Regions from separate parts of the Homo sapiens genome. Here region 1 is linked to region 2. The links come from fine-mapping of genetic effects on gene expression. A gene starts in region 2. The other region holds a variant in brackets. All regions are shown on one strand. Distances are from middle to middle. Region 1 overlaps CDH13 (cadherin 13). Region 2 holds the start of CDH13-AS2 (CDH13 antisense RNA 2).

The links.
Region 1: its variant is fine-mapped to the expression of CDH13-AS2 in whole blood (TOPMed, PIP above 0.99).

The regions. Positions count from the first base shown.
Region 1 is chr16:83,721,975-83,734,902 of GRCh38, reverse strand. The region is part of intron 10 of CDH13 (cadherin 13); the gene reads right to left. It overlaps CEDORA (CDH13 antisense oligodendrocyte and neuron associated lncRNA), which reads left to right. Exons shown (of 4, transcript NR_188499.1): 2 at 5,904-6,035; 3 at 9,315-9,428. Among named protein-coding and RNA genes, the nearest start is that of CEDORA, 45 kb to the left of the region's middle. RefSeq lists an enhancer at 6,465-6,965. The variant ATG/G (reference allele first, on the strand shown) is at 7,627.
Region 2 is chr16:83,798,929-83,807,386 of GRCh38, reverse strand. CDH13-AS2 (CDH13 antisense RNA 2) reads left to right here and starts at 3,411. Exons shown (of 3, transcript NR_120308.1): 1 at 3,411-3,718; 2 at 3,859-3,952. It overlaps CDH13 (cadherin 13), which reads right to left. Exons shown (of 14, transcript NM_001257.5): 14 at 6,747-8,458. RefSeq lists a silencer at 4,995-5,154.

The DNA of each region.
Region 1 (12,928 bases), 75 kb after region 2:
CCCAGATAAAATCAAGGAGCTGAAACTTACCAGACCACTGCCTCTGGATAATGAGGAGCCAGACCCCTCATCCATCAGGATTGCCTAAAGGACCACCTGCTTCCTACTGACCAACTTCTCTTCCTTGCCCCGCTTTAATCCCTGTTTTTATTATTATTATTATTATTATTATTATACTTTAAGTTTTAAGGTACATGTGCACAATGTGCAGGTTAGTTACATATGTATACATGTGCCATGCTGGTGTGCTGCACCCATTAACTCGTCATTTAGCATTAGGTATATCTCCTAATGCTATCCCTCCCCCCTTCCCCCACCCCACAACAGTCCCCAGAGTGTGATGTTCCCCTTCCTGTGTCCATGTGTTCTCATTGTTCAATTCCCATCTATGAGTGAGAACATGCGGTGTTTGGTTTTTTGTCCTTGCGATAGTTTACTGAGAATGATGATTTCCAATTTCATCCATGTTTTCCCAAACACGGTTACATTTCCTCTCTGGTGCATCAACCCCTCATTTCAGAGATGGATTTGAGACTGACCTCCCATTTCCTTGGCTGCAGCAGCACCCGATTAAAGCCTTCTTCCCTGGCTTTTGTCTTGTCTCAGTGATTGGCTTTCTGTGCAGTGAACAGCAGGACCCAGACCAAACCCCTGGTGCTTCGGTAACAATTACATCTTAACCAAATACATATATTTTTTCAGTTTTGAGTCACACTTTGGTCTTCACTTTAAATTGATTCATGGTAAGTTGCTTTTTTGTGCTTCCAGTCTTCTTTTGGTAAGGGCTGTTGGTGGTCCCTGTTTTTTGGTTCATGATTTGGAGTACATGGATGGTCACAGGAGGGGAGGTAAGGCTTTGGGGTTTAATCTGGTGACTAAACACTAATAACACTTTATTACAAGAGCAAAAAGCAGAATAAAATAGTCTGGTGCTCTGCTTCAGAGTTTCTGATAAGGCCCTCAGCAGCATGGAACCTGGGGCAGGGGGCTCTCTGCCTAAGTCTCAGGCTGCGCTGCTTGCAGGTCACGTTCCACTTTTGTCCACTTACGCCAAGGCATGGTGGTGTCTGGACAGGTGATCAGTTTCCCAGGGTGGTTTATCTCAAAGAAACACGCTCACTGGGAGAGCAAACTGGGATGTCAGAAGACCAGAATGGGAAAGTTAATCACCCCTCTGTATTTGTTCTCAGAGTTTATTTTTATTGGGTGATTAACCGACACACCATGGCCTTTGCTCTGGCACCTGGGTCTCTGAGTCCAGCTCAGACCAAGCTGAGCATGGATATTGCCACTTTCAAGAAGTCAATAAATGAAGCCAGCTGCAGCGGGGACCACAGTGAGATAGATGGCTGAGCCTCGCATTATGACTTGAAGCTCAGTGAATGTGGTCTGGCCGGCTGCCAAGCAAGGAGGTACTTAGAGGCAGCTGTGCTTAGCTTAGGTGATGACGGGACCTCCCTCTCCAGTGGCATCCTAATAGACAACCGTCTATAGAGACTGCATTCGTGATGGAGGCCAGGTTACCGGGAGGGCTGCAGGGTCCCTGGGAGACAGAAGCATCTGGGTTTCACAAGGAGAGAGCTCACCCAGGAGCACGAGTCCAGTGTGCGCTCACGGATCATCATCCGGAGGCACCATCACCAAAACAGGTGATGCTGCTGGCTGTTCTGTGAAGGAGCTGGAGGGTTATTTCCATCACTGAGTGCTCAGAATCACACATTCCCAGCCCTGTGTACTGATTTCCAGTGTTCATTCCATACATACGCTTTGACCACCTTCTATCTTCCCAGTATTCTGTTAGGGACTGGGGAGTTTGCAGTGATCAAGGTGGGGAGCTTCCTGCCCTTGGGATGCGTATCTTCACCAAGGCATTTACTATCTGATGTTGTAATTTTCACACAAGGTAGCGAGCTCCCAGGGATACACTTTGTCTTTCCCTCTTCATGTAGGCAGTGAGTGGCCTCATGTCTGGCCATACAGGCCTTGGTTAAAGATGGGTGAGTGAATGGGCAGAAAAGTCAATGTGTCAGAAGCAAGTGGAAGAGCAGCCTGGAATTCCAAGGAGTTGATATCCCCAGGGATTTCAAGGCTCTGTGATGACAAGTGCAGCTGAATCCCTGCAGGAAGCAGTTGGGTTTGGTGCCCCTGGTGAGGTCAGGGGTGTCAAGTACTGAGATTAGCAAGGGGGATGAGATGTATCCTGGGCCTGCAAGCCTCCCTCTGTATGAGGATGCCAGCTGTTTCTACGTGTGGGAACATCAGTTGCCAGGAAGAATGTGGCTCAGCTCTGCTATCATCTTTCTGGATGTAGGAGGTTCTACATTAGCACTAGTGTAGAAACAGAACCCTACTACAGTTTCCGGGTCCTCTATTCTGTTGCTCACAGAACAGGAGAGTGAGATTTAAAAAATGTACGTCATGTCCCTTTCAGGCTTCAAAACCTTTGTGGCTTTGGGGACTGATCACTGCTCACCTCCCACCATCAACTCACCCTGTTCCCCAGTCCAAAGCTAGCCAGGCTCTCCCATCGTCCCAGCCTTTGCATTAGCTGTTGGTTTCTCCCCCTCACCTCTCCCCTTGGCTGGTTCATTATCACTCTTCAGATCACACATCATCTCCCTCCTAACCAGCCCATCTAAGGTGGCCTTCTCCAGTTACTCTCCATCCCATTAAGCTGTTGACTCTCCCATGGGAAAGAGCTGTAAGCTGTAATCACACCGGTTGTGTGATCAGACATTCATTGGCTTGTTCATTGCCGGTCTTCCCACTAGAATGGAAACTCCACACTGTCTTGTTCACTGCTATCCTCAGGGCTAGTTAGGACCCGGCTCACAGTGTGAATTTTTCAATATTTTTTGAATAAATAAATAAACCAGGATGATTACCTTTAGGTTGGATGTATGAAGAATAGCTAGCCTGTCCAAAACATTTACTTTCAGCCTTGTTATTTAATCTGAAAAGCAATATTCACAACTGGCATTTATCGACTACCTGCTACCTGTCATGCAGCATTTAAATCTTCCACAAACCTTTGAGCTAGTTTATACACGAGAATTTTGCTCATTTTACATTTTCCTGTCTGAAGTCTAGAAAAAGAAAATGGATACTTTCTGAATAAATCAACCTCTTCTAAACTGACTTGCCAGAAGACGAGAAAAGAATCCAGCTGGAAAAAACCTAGGAAATAGCATTCTGCACATTGACCTTGGCAAAGAATTTATGACAAAGTCCCCAAAAGCAATTGCACCAAAAACAAAAATTGGCAAAGAAACTATCAACAGAATAAACAGACAACCTATAGAATGGAAAGAAATATTCACAAATTATGCTTCCAACAAAGGTCTAATATCCAGAATCTATAAGTAACTTTAACAACTCAACAAGCAAACAACTACCCCATTACAAAATGGTCAAAGACATGAACAGACACTTTGCAAAAGAACACATACGTGCGGTCAACAAACATATGAAGAAATGCTCCACGTCACTAATCCTCAGAGAAATGCAAATCAAAACCACAATGAGATACCATCTCACACCAGTCAGAATAGCTATTATTAAAAAGTCAAAAAATGACAGATGCTGCCCAGGTTACAGAGAAAAGGGAACTCTTATACACTGTTGGTGCGAATGTAAATCAGTTCAGCCCCTGTCCAAAGCAGTTTGGAGATTTCTCAAAGAACTTAGAACAGAACTACCATTTGACTCAGCAATCCTACTACTGGGTGTTTATCCAAAAGAAGATAAATTGTTTTGCCAAAAAGACACATGCACTTGTATGTTTATCACAGCACAATGCACAATGGCAAGCACAAGGAACCAATCCAGGTGCTCATCAATGGTGGAATGGATAAAGAAAATGCAGTGCGTGTATACCATGGAATACTATGCAGCTGTGAAAAAGGATGAAATTGTGTTCTTTGCAGCAACATGGATGCAGCTGGAGGCCATTAACCTAAGCGAATTAGCACAGGGACAGAAAACCAAATACTGCATGTTCTCAGTTCTAAGTGGGAGCTAAACATTGAGTACACACAGACACAAAGATGGGAGCAATAGACATTGGGGACTACTAGAAGGGGGAGCATGGAAGGGGTGTAAGGGTTGAAAACTATCGGGTACTATGCACACTGTCTGGGTGATGGGATCACTCATACCCCAAACTTCAGCAACACGCAATAGACCCAGGTAATAAACCTGCCCATGGACCCCCTGAATCTAAAAGCTCAAAAAAACCACAAACCAAAAAACGAAAACAAAACAAAAACAAACAAACAAAAAACCCAGGTGATCCTTTGTACCCAGTTCAATTGTATGAATTTTTTAAAAGAATACCACCGTATATTTTAGTGTGTTGAACTTTTCATCGAATTGTGATTTTAAAAAGTCACAGTTTAGCCCAGAAGGAGGTATCTCCAAGTTTGTCAGTTCCTAAAACAACATTCTAGAGGGAAACAAATGAAAATCTCTTGGAACTGTACATATTCTTTGACCCAGAAATTCTTCCTCTAATTATTTAGCTTAAAGAAATAGCTATAGGGAGCACATTCCAAAACTGGGGAATGCCAGGTTAATAACATCAAATGAGGTCCCCCTTTGCGCAAGAATTCTCAGAGCCTTTAATACTCAGATTTGCATTGTGAAGATCTGAGAGAGGGCCTTAGAATAATGCATAGCTCAGACTTATTTGGCTGAAATATTTAGCGACAATTATATTTTCTCCTTCAATGTTTACTATAGAAAAATAAAAAATCAATCAGGGAACTGTTGATCAAAAGTGATAATGGAATGCTACGTAGACATTAAAAGCCATGATGAACACAGCATGACAAGATGACAACACATACGAAGTAAATCTTTATAGTAGGTAGGTATGTGTATAGCACCGTGAGGGTCCACATGCAAACATGTGGCAGGCTCGCTGCCCCCTTCTCACAAGCACGGTAATGACTTGGCAATGGCCAGGTCAGCTTCAAAACCCCTCTTTGTATGAAGCCCTGTGTGCCAAACCCTTCTTTTTCACAGGGCTTGACATACAATCCCAAACAGATTTGCTGCTGCTGGCTGAGAAAATACCTTGGAAGGGAATGCTAGTGGCAGTTGCGGTAATAATTATGATCATGATGATGATAATAATAGAGTCACAGATAATATTTATTGAGCACTTGCTTTGTGCCAGGGAATTTCCAAGCACTTTACATGGGTCAGCTTATTTAAGTCTAACAATAACTTCATGTGGGTGGGATTACTGACCCATTATATAGATGAAGAAACAGAGGTGGTGAGGGACTAAGTAGCTGGGTCCAGGACACACAGCTAGTAAGTGATAGAGTTGTCCAACCATAGCGCCCATGCTCTTAACAGTGATGCCTCGCTGTCTGACCTGGGTCTTAGGAGTAGTGGTATCTGGCTAGTGGGATTTACATCTTTCTTAGTTTTGCCTATCTCAGTTGCTAAAATTTTTACCATGAGCCTATATTTGTTTTGCAAATAAAATTTTTTTGGCAATAAAAAGACTAGTAATACAAAGATGATTTCCTTTATATCTCTACATTTCCATTTTCTCTTCTTTGTGAAACCTTATTACTATAGATGGTATATTTACTATATATACATACACATATGTATAATATGCATGTCTTATCTATGATATGTAACAGTATATGATGTATATGCACATAAATAATATATCCATTTTATACTTGTGAACTGAACATTTGTTGCTGTTCCCCCCAAATTCGGATGTTGATAGAACTCTAACCCCCATTGTGGCAGTACTTGGAGGTGGGCCTCTCCTTAGGAAGTTAAGGTTACATGAGGTCATGAGGATGGAGCTCTGATCTGATAGGATGAGGATCCTTATAAAAGGAGACCCTGTATGCTCCCTAATCCCCACCCTCCAGGTACATGCCCCAAGGAAATGAGGCTACATGAGGACACAGCAAGAAGGTGGCTGTCTGCAAGCCAGAAAGAGAGCCCTCCCCAGAGACTGAACCAGCTAGAACCATGATCTTGGACTTCCAGCCTCCAGAACTGTGAGTAATACATGTCTGTATTCAAGCTGCCCAGTCTGTGGTATTTGGTTATGGCAGCCTGAGCTAAGACAATACTATCTAAATATTAGGTTGAACCACACAGTTGCCATTTCTCTCGTCAAAACCCGTCACATCAGCAATTTCACATGGCCCAACCTAATATATAAACATATATACAATAAAAACGGCATGTCGTAATTGTGTGCTTTCCTTCCTGCTGGGCACAGTGCTTTGAAGGCCGAGAGACACGCTTATTTATCTTTGCTTTCTCTTCTCTCCAGGCTTCCATTGGCACTTGGTAAACACTGGTGACTGAGTGGGTAAATTACAAAGATGAGCATTTTGAATTCCTCTTCCAACAGAAGCTTTAATGTAGTTCTTATCAAGCCTAATTCACTCACTAAAAAGAATTGCATTGCACATATTGGCAGGAGCTATTGAACTGTTGTTTGTCAAGACCTTTTCTCCTCGTTTCATAGGGACTCAAACTAAATGTATCTTCACAACACACACACACACACACACGCACACACATACACATACACACATAGCCAGTGCCATTCAACTGTTAGCGAATCACACCGCTTACGGCTCACAGGCTTGTGGGGTCAGCCCGTGAGAACAGGCACCTTCTCTCCAGGGCCCAGTGTGCACATCAAAGACTTAAACCCTGTGGTCGAGGATAGACTCTGAGACAGAGACGTGGTGTGTGGCTCTGAAGCCTGCCCGCGGTGCTGTTCCCCCTTTCCAGGCAGCGTGCTCACTGCTGTCCACATCTGAGTATGTGTTGCCGCATAACAGACTCCTCAGAGGAGCTGTGGCTCTTTGTACAGTCACAGTTTTCAAAAGCTTTTGCCTCACAAAAGAAAAAGCAAAGCGCCTTCCCTCAGGCAGTTTTCAATTCTTCCCTCCAAATCCATCAGTCAAACTTGATACTTAAACCCTTGAATCCCAAAAGCTCCTTTGAGAAGCGAGCCCATTAGCAGCGGGCGGGAATGGCTGCCCTCCCCGCCAACGCCCCTGTTCACTCCCTGGGCTGCCCTGCTGTGACTGGTGAGCAAAGTTGTCAGCCAGTTCCGTCAAGGGATCTGTCATTCCCAAACCTGTTTGGTCCTTAGTCCTCCTGTCCTGAACACACAGGCCTTTCCTGGAGAGCTAGCAAGCCTAAGACTTTTTTGGCCTTTGAATGCAATTTTATTTTTTAGGGCTTCTAATGTTGATGTACTAACATTCTCGGCTTATAAAATCTCCAATGTTGATATTTCATTTAGTAAAACTGATATTTTTCTTTCTCAATGCGGGAAGGTTGGAAGGTTCTCCTTTGAGAACCCACTGCCGCAGTGGTGATCTCTGGAACAGGTGGATAGGTGTGCACTAAATAAAGCAAGCAGAAGAAGATGTGCTGGGAGAATCTCGGTGATGGGGCAAAGGGTGCTTGCTATAAAATTCTTCCAACGTTTCCACATGTTTGAAAACTGTTCTAAAGTTGAGAAAATACAATAAAATGATGAATGTGTCTGTTCTCTAAACACTCAGCAGCGTCCCTTCCCACGTAGATGTCTTTCTGCTACAAAACCATTAAGGATATCAC[ATG/G]TTAGCTGATTTCATTCCGATGAAATGTCCGTACTAGGCAAACCCACAGAGACAGGAAGCTGGTTAGTGGTCACTAGAGCAGTGGGGAGAAGGAAGCACGTTAACGGTTAAGGGGGATGGGGCTTCTCTTTAGGGTGCTGAAAATGTTCTAAAATCGAGGGCGGTGATGGTTGCACAACTCTGTGACTACACTAAAAACCATTGAATTGTATATTTTAAATGGGTGAATTGTACGGTATGTGAATTATATCTCATAAATCAATACAGCTGTTATACATGGGAAAGATAACTTCAAGGAAGGGAGGTATCCATGATTTCCAGGGCTGCTAAAACAGAACAAAACAAGGCACAAACCAAACACTCCTCCCTCGATAGTCTTCAGAATACTCTTGACTGACAGAACGCCAAAAAAGGACGGTGATTTTTTTTTTTTTTTGAGACAGAGTCTTGCTCTGTCGCCCCAGGCTGGAGCGCAGTGGCGCCATCTCCGCTCACTACAAGCTCCGCCTCCCGGGTTCACGCCATTCCCCTGCCTCAGCCTCGCGAGTAGCTGGGACTACAGGGGCCCGCCTCCACGCTCGGCTAATTTTTTTTTGTATTTTTAGTAGAGACGGGGTTTCACCGTGTTAGCCAGGATGGTCTTGATCTCCTCACCTCGTGATCTGCCCGCCTCGGCCTCCCAAAGGGCCGGGATTACAGGCGTGAGCCACCGTGCCCAGCCAACAGTGATGTTTTGATTTTTCTTCCATTTTTTGCCCGTTTAGCAAATACTCAACAAACAAAAGACGTGCAGAGTCTCCCCTGCAGGGCCTGCCTTCTTAGTGGCAATGGCTGCAGCAGAAGGGGCCAAGATAACGATTTGTCTGGAGAATGAACAAATAAATAAATAAATGAATGAATGAATGGACCCTATCTAGGGTCCTTGTTTCTCCAAAACCCGAACAGACACCCCGGTCTTGTCACAAACTTGGCCTGTGACCTGCAGCACATGACTGTCACTCTTGGGCCTCAGTTTCCCCATCTAAAAAACAGAGGTCATGTGAAATGATGGTCTCTAAGGTGCCTTCTAACTGATACATTATGACAATCTTTCCAAAAGCAATTGTTATTCAATGGCTGAGCAAAAAAGTTATAAAATTATCCCTTGTGGGAAGATTCAGACCAAGGTCCAGTTTTCTCTACATGAAAATGCAACACTTTACAATGTTGTGTAAGTGCAGAAAGTGAAAAGACAATCATTAAAAAGCTGAGAAAAATAAAGTCAGGAAAGAATGCTACATAAATCGCTCAGTCTGACTTCAAAGGGAAATTTTTTTCCAAAGTAAGATCATGAGAATTGATTTATGTCCTCAGAGCCAATGCAAATGCAGGATTTGTACAATATCCATTTATCAGTTCCAAAGGAGCTGATTTACGGCCCACCTCTTCTAGTTTGTATTCTGTCCAGCTCAGAAAGTTAACTGACAACACAGAAAGAAATATCCTCTGTCTCATTGCAGATGACGGGTTATAAATGAGCACAACTTGATTCTCTGTTCTGGAAAATTAGTGTTTTGAAACTCTCATTAGAAATTAGTCATTAAAGCTGTTCCCAAACTTGCCTGCTTGGCCCATCACTTTGTTGCTGTTTTTGGTTGTTTAACGTTCTGACAATGTCAGCCAGAGAAACGACTGCCTTTGTCTTAGGTTATTCTAGGTCGACTTCCGTGTCTGGATGTAACCAAATCACCAGCCAGACCGTGACCAGGACACATCATACCGCTTGCCCCCGGCAGAGATCCTGTGCCCACATGTGATAAGGTGGGTGATGCAGACCTGGTGCTCAGTATGTCAGTCACAAACTGTGTAGGCCTGGAGGAGGTGGAGACAGAGGTACCACTTGACCCTCCTTCCCAGATTAGTGGAGAAGACGGAACTCATGTTTCCCAGACTGACGCCTAAGGATAGATTAGATCCACAGGATACACAAGACCCGTTGCAGTCCTGCCTGTGTGTTGAGTGAACGGATCTAGCTCTCTTGGCCACCATGCCTTTGTTTATCCCATTTCCTCTGCCTGAACATCCTTGCCCTGGTCTACCTGCAAGTCTGAGCCCAGCTGTCCCTTCCTTCCTTGACTTTGACTGATGTGCCTTTCTCTCTGCTGCTGTTATATTGTAGTGTTTTCACCTCAAATGTCACTTTCATCATAGCTTTTATACTAAAAGGGTCTGTTTATTCATCTCTTTCTTTCTCTAGACTGAGTGAAACTGGATGACAGAGGCCATATGTGTCGTGGTGACTGTATATCCCCACTATCTGTGAATCAGGGCTTAATTTGCATTGATTGGCCTAATGAGGACACCAATAAGGGAGTCCCAGGGGTAGGATGATCCTGCAGCTGGAAGAAAGGCTGGGAAGCCATATAGAGTTGTACCCAAAGGCCATCTCAAGGGAGCAGCTCCTGGCTGCAGGTTACAATATAGCCCCTGCTCACCCAGCTGGTTGTGTCCCTGCTGACACTTCATCAATCATCTTGCTCCTGACGCTGACACTGCTCAGGCTGGGAAGGGAGGGGAAAGTAAGGATACAGGTGTCTAGGAGAGAGCTTAGGAGATAGGCTCCTTCAGTGAGATGGTAGGAGACAAGCCCCAACATAGTCACAGGGGGCTTCAAGTAAGACGCTTCCTCCAATCTGAGCTGGTTTGAGCTTGTACAACTTCATCCATCCATGTATCCATCCATTCATGCATTCATCATTCATCCATGCATTCATCCACCGACTCATGCATTTATCACTCACCCATGCATTCCACACTCATCCATGCATTCATCATCCACCCATGCATTCATCATCCACCCATGCATTCCTCACTCACCTATGCATTCATCACTCACCCATGCATTCATCACCCACCCATGCATTCATCCCCCACCCATGCATTCATCACTCAGCCATGCATTCCACACTCATCCATTCATTCATCACTCACCCATGCATTCATCACCTACCCATGCATTAATCACCCACCCATGCATTCATCATCCACCCATGCATTCCACATTCATCCATGCATTCATCACCCACCCATGCATTCATCACCCACCCATGCATTTATCACTCACCCATGTATTCATCACCCACCCATGCATTCATCACCCACCCATGCATTCATCACTCACCCATACATTCATCACCCACCCATGCTTTCCACACTCACCCATGCATTCATCACTCACCCACGCATTCACCACTCACCCATGCGTTCATCACCCACCCATGCATTCATCATCCATCCATGCATTCCACATTCATCCATGCATTCATCACCCACCCAGGCATTCATCACTCATCCATGTGTCTATCCATGCATCCATCAATTCATGTATCCATCCATCTATCCATCCATCCATCCATCCATCCATTCTTCCATGGATCTATGCATCTGTCCACCCATCCCCTCATTCTTTCAATATTTATTGTGTAGCTATTATATGTCAGACATTCTTCTTTACTCTGCATATATGAAAGAGAACAAGGCATGAAATTCCTGTTCTCATGGAGCTTCTGTTCTACAAGAGGAAGGGAGATCATAAAAATAGTTAACACACAATACGATAACTTCAGAGAGTGGTATGTGCTCTGAAAGCCGTCCCATTGGGCAACAGTACAGGGAGTGACCAGTGACAGGTGGGCAGAGTTGAGGAGGGCTTCTTTAGCGAAGGTGATCAGGGAAAGCCTTGCAAAGGAGATGATAGTGAGACTGAAGTGAAAAGGAGACAGTCACATGAAGGCCTGGGCAAGGGAGAACATTCCAGGCAGAGGGAGCCACAGTGAGCTGATGTCACTGAGGAGCCTCCAGCTAAGCAGCAGCTTGGAGACAGAGGGCCAAGCAGAGGCGAATCAGACAAAAGCACACTCAAATCTTGGCTCAGCCCTTTAGTATCTGTGGGACATGGAGAGAGGTGCTAACCTTCCAAGCTTTTACTTCTCTATATGTGAAATGGAGACACTAAAACCTCACTCATAGGGTGGGTGAAAAGATGAAGTCGTATACAGAGCATGGTCCTTGGCATGAGGTAGCTTATCAAGCCCAGATACTTCCAAATCCTTCTGCCAAGTGAAAGTCATCGTGCTTCTCACATCAGCATCCTAAGACAGGCAGGAAGATTGATCACCTTGCTTCTGGTAACCAGTTTCAGACTGACATGTCTGCATGATTCCACCTTCATTCCATATTTTAAAAATGCACCATGTACTCCCTTTATTAAGCATGTCACCCAGCTCTAGTTACTGTGAAACTAGAAGGTCACAGCTCAGCTCTGTGCTCAGAAATATGGCACCTGTCAGGTGCATGATTTAGGAACTTGGCCTTCCTCAGTGGGACCTCAGTGTAGTAAAATCAAGTCAACGATTCAATCCATGGCTGCTGATAAAGACTGGGAGAAATATGAAGCTGCTGTCTTAGCAATACACTTTTCATTAGTGAACTTTTTTAGTAAGATGACATTGAAATCCACCCCCCCAGCCTGGTTTCCAAATAGCTCAGCACTGTAACCTGAATAAGACGTGGTGACTCTGCTGGACAAAGACCAAAAGCCTTGCGAGGGTGTGGGACAGACAACAGGATACATCAGTGCAGTTGGCTCAGTTTTGCAAGGTTAGACTTCTCTCATTTGATTTCACTTACCTCTGGCTATTTTCCTTTTCTTTGCCAGAGGAACACTGGCAAATGTTTAACATCTGATTCTCTGGAGGTGGGGAAAGCTTGAATTAATAGTGTTTGTCTAATTCCATGATAGAAGTATTTCCAATGTGGCCAGTTTCGAGTTACTCCCACGATGTCACTGAATGCACAGCTACAAAGAGATGGTAACAACTGGCCCCTGCAAACTGCTATGAATTGGCTCTAGGGCAACACTGCTACACCATCTCCCTACGAATAACAGGGATCCCCTTTGTGGGGTTGGACACTGTACATATGTAGCTGGCACTACATGCATGATATTTCATATAATCTTAACTATCATTGTTTGAGGCTGGGATTACTATTGCCATTTCAGGGATGAGAATAGCAAGGCTCAGAGAGATTGTGTAGCCAGCATCGGTTCACATAATTAGCAGGCAGCGAAGTTGGGATTTGAATACTGTGGGCACCTTTCATGTGGCACACTCCTCCCCACTCTGAGTCCTCCTCTTTCTTCCCTGGGAATGAGTAGCTTGCTTCCTAACAAGCTCCAGGGCTCCAGTGTCCCCTGGATCCTCCCACAGTGCTCTTTTGCACATGGACCCCTCCACTCCCAGTTCAGAATGAAGTCCAGT
Region 2 (8,458 bases):
GTGGGTTTGGGTGTTGAAGGAGGTGGGCACTGCTGATTTGGAACCTCAAGTTCCAACCCCACAGGTGGTCTTTAGGATTGGGTCTCATGGCAAGGGGATAGGAGAGTCCTTGACTGCGGGCCTGGCATGTTCTGGAAACTTTCACACATCTCATTTAAGGACTGTGCTATGTGAGGGGTCAGCTCCAGTTTGACTTTAGCTAGGGAGAGGCTGTAAGGTGTTAGAGCTGTTACGGGAAAGGGTCCTGATCCAGACCCCAAGAGAGGGGGTTCTTGGATCTCATGCAAGAAAGAATTCAGGGCGAGTCTGTAAAGTGAAAGCAAGTTTAAGAAAATGAAGGAATAAAAGAATGGTTACTCCATAGACAGAGCCCTGAGGGCTGCTGGTTGCTCATTTTTATAGTTATTTCTTGATTATATGCTAAACCAGGGGTGGGTGATTCATGCCTCCCCTTTTTAGACTATATAGCGTAACTTCTTGACGTTGCCATGGCATTTGTAAACTGTCATAGCGGTAATGGGAGTGTAGCAATGAAGACAAGCAGGGTTCACTCTTATTGCCATCTTGGTTTTGGTGGGTTTTGGCCGGCTTCTTTACCGCAAGCTGTTTTATCAGCAAGGTCTTTATGACCTGTACCTTGTGCTGACCTCCTATCCCATCCTGTGACTTAGAATCCTTTAACTGTCTGGGAATGCAGCCCAGTAGTTCTCAGCCTCAGTTTACCCAGCTCCTATTCGAGATGGAGTTGCTCTTGTTCAAACGCCTCTGCCAGACCCACCAGTGTCTCTAACAAACCCGGAATCCAGTTGGCCTTGAGGCATGAGACTTCAACTCCCTTTACCACCCCTTCCCCCTCACTCACACCTTTGCCCCTCACCCTTCACACCTCATCCTTTCCTATAGAGAGATCTTCCTTTCTGTGTAAGTATACACAACTTTTTTGTAATTGGCTGTTGTCAACTGGTATTTGGCTAGTGCTTTACCCGACTACTTGAAATAAAAATATCTCAGTGTTTTAAGTTAATCCTCAGAAGACCCTGTGATATAATTATCATAATTTTACATTTTTGAGAAAACAGATGCAGAGGCGTTAAGAAACTGGAACAAGGTCATCAAATTAAGGAAGTAAGAGACGCAGGACTTCCTGACTCTGCATCTTCTCCTTTTTTCTCACCATTCTAGAATTCTCTGAGTTTTTTGAGCTTAGAGCAGAGTTTCTCAAGAGCTGCAATACTGGCATTTGAGTCAAGTCGTTCTTTATTGTTGGTGGTGGAGGGGGCACCCTGTATATTGTAGGACGTTGGGCAGCATCTCTGACTTCTACCTACTAGATGCCAGTATCTCAGTTTTCTTAAAAGACTTTTTTTTTTTTTTTTTTTTTTTTGAGATGGAGTCTTGCTGTGTTGCCTAGGCTGGAGTGCAGTGGCACCATGTCGACTCACTGCAACCTCCGCCTCCCCGGTTCAAGCGATTCTCCTGCCTCAGCCTCCTGAGTAGCTGGGATTACAGGTGAGCACCACCATGCCCAGCTAATCGTAAAAGACTTTTCATAAAACTTCAGAACTCCTTAAAAACTAGTGAATAGCCAAGGTGAAGAAAGCCCTCAGGCTTCTGACTTTAGACCCCAATCCCTGGGACTCCCACACTCAGCAAAGAAAGCTGGGTGCCTGCACCCTGGATCTCTGAGCAAACCTGTCTTATGGCTGTGGGCAACTCAGGAACATGAATTAGCACGAGAATCTGGAGTTTTTCTTTCCTTTTCTGGTAAGACACTTGTGGTTTTTTTTTTTCAAATTCCAATTGGAAATTTGCTTTACATGAACAACAAACAAACTTGATACTCTTTTAGTGGAGGCATTATTTGTTCCTTTATTTTTTGCACTTAAACAGACAGGCAGTATGCTTTCTCTGTGTGGAGACCAAGGTCTGTTAAAGGGCTGCTTTTCACGGAAGCTTCACTAATTTATACTCATGGCTGACATACTCACCTTGTGGGGCTGACACACCGAACCTAACTGAATATTGTCCCATTAACAAAACTAATGTATTACGTGTAAGGCACCAGTAATTAACCTTTAAACTTCGGTTTTGAACAACTCTCATTTTTAACCTTTATTTAAGTGTCATAGTTGTCTTACCTCCTCTTGGCATTTTTTTTTTAAAGCTCTTCCTAGATTAATTGCATGTTGTAACTCCCTTTTTCCATTCAAGACAGTTTTGTTTTACGTGCGCTTATTATGGTACTTTTATAATTGCTTTTTGGTTCTCTGGGCCATTCTTTTGACATGCCTCCTTTCTTGGATCTGTACTATGATAGGTGGCTGGGCATGGTGGCTCATGCCTGTAATCCCAGCACTTTGGGAGGCTGAGGCAGGCAGATCACTTGAGACCAGGAGTTCAAGACCAGCCTCGCCAGTGTGGCGAAACCCCATCTCTACTAAAAATACAAAAATTAGCTGGGCTAGGTGGCGTGCACCTGTAATCCCAACTATTCAGGAGGCTGAGCCAGGAGAATCGCTTGACCTGGGGAGGCAGAGGTTGCAGTGAGCCGAGATCTATCCCCTGCACTCCATCCTGGGCAACAGATTGTGACTCTGTCTCAAAAAACAGTAATAATAAAATACACTATGGAAGGTGTTGGTCTGTCCATGTGACCACATGCAATGAGGTGCTTTGTGCGTTTGCCTTGTGTGAGCAGCGATGGAATGATCCTAGCGGGGCCTTGGAGGAACTGGAATGTTCTTTGCCTAGTTGCACCTGCGTCAGCTCTGTAGGCCCAGCCCTGGGGCCCAGCAGCTGCTCCCCTGGTTTGCTTTCCTCCCAGGTTGCCTCATGCTGCTGCTGAGCAACCTTCACCTGATGGGCGGTGCCACAGCAGGGTCAGTGAAGGGTGCCCCTTCCTTCTAGTGACCTGGGCTGCCCTAGCCCTGGCCCTTCAGTAGCCATTCCAAACCTTTCTGGTCCCCCCAAATCCAGGACTTTATCCCCTTCACCCTCAGAGGATGACCTTATATTCTATTTTGTGGAGAAAATGGAGACTGTCCATCAAAACCCCTTAACTCCCGTCCTGCGTGCATTCCTAAGTTCCTACATTAACCCCCGTGTCACTAGCTAACGATCCTTTCTGTCTCAGGAAGCAGTGTTCTTCCTCGCGCACAGGGCTCTGCGTTTGTCTAAGGCAGAGAGACCTGGGCCCTGATCCCATTCTCTTTCCTCAACTCCAGGAACTTGCTTCCTGCATTCATTTTCTTTTTTCCAATGATTCCTCCTTCTCAGCACATAAAAGTGACCAACCCCTCGCCCCACCCCCGCTGCACAAAAAACAAATAGAAAATGGAAACCAGTCCAACCAGGGTGAACCTCCACTGACTGTGTGCCCTTGTTGAGCTACTGCTCATAGGGGAGCTTCTAGAAAGGAAGGACTTATTGTCTTAGTTACTTGATCCACTTCCTTACCTCCTGTTCATGCAACTTTGCTTGTTTTGCTTCTACTAAAATGGTTCTAGGTGCTGTGTGGACAGGTGATACAAAAGCCTGACTCACACGGTTGACATTCATTCATTCCATTTTCATTTCTCTTTGAGTGATCCTGACAAGCAGAGGGTCTCAGGTGGATATTACTGTGTCTTTGAGACCTCTCTAATCCTTATCTATCTCTCATTTTAATACAGAGAGTTTCATACGCAGACCTTAAGTAGACATAGTATCCAGCTAAAAGGTAATTATGCTTTTTTGTTTGTTTTCATTGTATTTATTTTTACTGCTGCTTTATTGTATTCCAAGTGATACTGGTTTTTCATTCATGTTGTTATAATGTAGAGTTTTCTTTTTCTTTTTTCTTTTTTTTTTTTGAGACAGGGTCTCACTCTGTCACCCAGGCTGGAGTGCAGTGGCGCAGTCATGGCTCCCTGTAACCTCAACCTCTCAGACTCCAGCAATCCTCCTGCGACAGGTATGCACCATTACGCTTGTCTAATCTTTGTATTTTTTGTAGAGATGGAGTTTCGCCATGTTGTCTAGGCTGGTCTTGAACTCTTGGGCTCAAACCATCTACCTACCTGCCTTGGCCTCTCCAAATGCTGGGTTGATAGGTATGAGCTACCATGCCCGGCCAATGTACCAGCTTCTTTTAAAATAAATTCAAGCCAAAATTATAAATGTAAAATTACGTAGTTTAAAACTAGAGTTGTAGCTGATGGTACAGGTGGCATTTCAGTGTGGCAGAGTTAGTGAAGGTGCTGAGAGATGAGACAGGGAGACGGCTAAATAGGGACGATATTCCCTTGGGATTAAAGTTTAGAAAATCCTGCCTTGAAAGAAGGCAGGGAGCCAAAGGGTGAAGACATTGCGTGTGCTGTGAAACAACATGGTTACAAAATTTGATAAGGGGAAGCACAGGAACTATGACTGCATCAGGGTAACATCGACTTGCTTCTTCTCCGTGGGGATAAACTCAGAGAGGATGCTGAGGGATGTCAGCAGGTGCTGGGTCCCTGTTTTTCACAGAACAATCCTTCAGGTGCTAGTAAGCCTCAGGAGGAGGATGCTGTCCCGCTGGCACGAGGAGGGGCTGGGGCACGACAGTCATCATCCAAGCAAAGGTAGGGCTTAGTTACAGACACAGAACGGCAGATTTAATCTAGAAACACCACCATCCTGGTACCAGTCTTCTTGGCTTGGATTCCCATGTAAAAATCCAGCGTTGCTACCCTCTCAAGGGTGTGCCCTGGTTAGAATGAGTGGATATTTTGCCTCGCATTACCAAAGCACAAGGAGGTCTCTTTGAGGACTTGTTTGTAAAAAAATCAAACAACAACAAACAAACAAACAAAAACCTAGAAAATTGCTTTTCTCGGGGAGAATGGTGTGATCGGTGGTTGTTCTGACAATTTCACGTTCTCTTGCTTTCGGATTGAAGCATTGGTTTCTGTTTCTTATGTTCTTTTGAGGCAAATTTCCAAATTAGCGTCTCTATGACTGGCTGCCAAGGCATCCGTTTGCTATTTATTTACCCAAACTAGCAGTTTCCTGGAGACAGACTGCCTAGGGGGAAGGAAAGTTTTCTTATAGACCAGATTTGCAAGTTTGGGTTTCCTCTGCTTCATCCCCCATCATTGACAACTTGCTTAGTCCTCAGCACTTTCATGCATTGTTTGTGATGACACAGTTTGTTCCTGGAGATAAATGGGGTGGTGCTGCCTTAGCATATAGCAAGAAAAGTGCCAGGGTGGGGCCATGCATATCACTTAGTAGTCGTGAGACCTACTGTGAGATAGTTTTAACTGTGTGAACCTCAGTTTCTTCATCTATAGAATGGTGCTAATGTCTATTACATAAATTATGTATATGATATATAATTATGTATTACACATAAATTACAAATATAACTACAAGGTAATATGTATATACACATCTATATAGATACGTAAAGTATCCGGCCCGTAGGAAGCACTTAACGAATACCCCCTTCCCTTTTTTTTTTTTTTTTTCGCTTTTGAGTTGGAGTCTTGCTCTGCTCTGTTGCCCAGGCTGGAGTGCAGTGGCACTATCTTGGCTCACTGCAACCTCCGGCTCCCAGGTTCAAGAGAGTCTCCTGCCTCAGCCTCCTGAGTAGCTGGGATTACAGGTGCCCACCATTACACCTGGCTTAGTTTTATATTTTTGGTAGAGACGAGGTTTCTCCATGTTGGCCAGGCTGGTCTTGAACTCCTGACCTCAGGTGATCGGCCCACCTCTGCCTCCCAAATTGCTGGAATTACAGGCGTGAGCCACCACATCTGGCCCCCTCCTTTTTTTACAAAATGATCTCACTAACCTTCTTGCTATCTTCTCTCTCTTTCTATCTCTCTCTCTCTATCATCTATCCATCTATCCTTCTATCATCTATATATCTGTTTTTCCAAATCAGAATGATTGACTTTTATGAAAGAAGCAGAAGAGAGCCAATTATTAAGCAGGCAGCACTTGGTTTTAGTCTTGGTTTTTAAACATCATAGGCTAACCTGGTGTGGAGTCCTGATAAGTAAGCAACAATGAGGAAGGGGGGTCCCAGGTAGGGAACAACTGTTCCAAGAGACAGCTAATCACAAACAAGCCGCTGGCACAACTACCTCACTCCAAGTGTAACATCCTCCAGCACAACCCTATAAAACTTCCCTCCAGCCCCTGCCTCTTTCCAGACATCCCCTTCTCTGCTGTGCTGCCTGTTGCTTCCTTGCAACGTACTTTCCCTTGAATAATCAGCCTTTCTTTACCTACAACTGTCTTGGTAAATTGGTAAATTCTTCTTCTTCTTCTTCTTCTTCTTTTTTTTTTTTTTTGAGACAGAGTCTCACTCTGTTACCCAGGCTGGAGTGCAGCGGCGCTATCTCGGCTCACTGCAACCTCCGCCTCCCAGGTTCAAGCGATTCTCCCGCCTTAGCTTCCTGAGTAGCTGGGATTACAGGCATGCGCCACTGTGCCCAGCTAATTTTTGTATTTTTGGTAGAGATGGGGTTTCACCACTTTGGCTAGGCTGGTCACGAACTCCTGACCTCCGGTGATCTGCCCGCCTTGGCCTCCCAAAGTGCTGGGATTACAGGCGTGAGCCACCACGCCCTGCCGGTAAATTCTTTTACCATCCACAACACCGGCACCAGCCAGTTGCACCCATGACACTGTGCACCATTGGAAAAAAAGGTCCCTTTGCTCTGTCACAGTGTTTAGACCAGACTGTACTAAAGATGGTCTAAGACTAAACACACAAGTTAAAAATCCCAGATAAGCTTTATTTGAATGTTTCACAAACAAGTTGCACATTTCTCTGTAACTACATAGTAAAGCAAATGTTAGTTTACAGCTCAGAAACTGTAAGCAATTCAGCAGTGAGGGCCCAAAGGAGCGACATCTGCCATAGACTGAATATTTTAACATGATTAACTTTTATCCCTTTTGAAAAGTGTGTGTGAATAAAAAGCATTTAAAATTTCTTAAAATTTTTATCTGGGGGGATACATAAAATTTTGTCATCAGGACAGTGTTGACATGTGCATGACAACACAGATATAACTCTCTAATAATAGTCTGAATTCATGTGTACGACAGATATAGAATGGCTTTAGTACTCTCTAAAGAAAAAGCTTTTTAAAAAGTAGCAAAAAAATAGTCTCCAGTTTATTTTCATAGTGCTTCTATAAGCCCCTTTCTCCAAATCTTCATAGCTTCAGAGTGAAAACCTCCCTCGTCCTACACCACCCAACGCTTTTCACCATCTCCCTACCAATGAGACGGCACGTGGAAAGTCAAATAAAATGGTTCAAAGGCGTATCAAGCTCAGCAACCCTCCAACGATAGATGTGATGATAGCAACATAGTATGAGAGAGAGGAAATTTTTCCGCTTACTTAATTTGATGAGTATCTCAATTATTTCTGCTTAAATTATAGACTGACTCTTCTTAAATTATATAATTGAAGTTCTTATCTGAAACCCTCATACACACACCCATTCCCACCATTTTTTGCTGTCTCTCCATGTCTTGTATATGCTTTCATGTGAACACGGTCACAACTGCAGAATTTTTTCAATAGTGGGCTAATCTATTAGCAATAGGAAATATAGTAAGGGTAACACATTGCATATAGTAAAAGAATTGTTAATTGTGTTAGATGAACCATTTTGAAAGCATTTTATCATTAGACTGTGAAAATTATCAAATCTCAACAGTCAGTTAAGGAGAGAAGATGGAGGTCTTTATGAAAGATGTAGCCAGATTATTAGATTATTATTCTTAGTATTTGGTAAACAGAAAAGGTAGGTGGCTTTTTTAGTGCTTGGGTTTCCTGTTGGTGTGACTTACCCTGTTGACTCATGTTTAAGGCAGCTACACGTAAACAGATTTATGGGCTACCTTTACAAAATCAGCAACTACTTAGAGATCCTTTAGAATTTGCCCCTTTGAATGATTTATAGCAAAGCACAGTGCAAACCCTTTGAGACCCCACCCCACTTTCTCCCTCAGTTTTCTCTCCCCTCAGTTGGTTTGGTAGTGAATGGGTACTCTGGAGTTCATAAATTTCCTTTTCTTTCTTTTTTTTTTTTTTTTTTTTTGACGGAGTCTTGCTCTGTTGCCCAGGCTGGAGTGCAATGGCTCACTGCAAACTCTGCCTCCTGGGTTCAAGCGATTCTCCTGCCTCAGCCTCCTGAGTAGCTGGGGTTTCAGGTGTGCACCACCACACCCAGCTAATTTTTGTATTTTTTAGTAGAGATAGGGTTTCACCATGCTGGCCAGGCTGGTCTTGAACTCCTGACCTTAAGTGATCCACCCGCCTCTGCCTCCCAAAGGGCTGGGATTACAGGCATGAGTCACCATGCCCGGCTACTTTTGATTAACTGAGATGTTAAATTAATCTAGGAGAAGCCCCTCATCTACCTGCTAACAAGCCATGGAAGGGAAGGGGCAAATAATTACGTTATCTTGC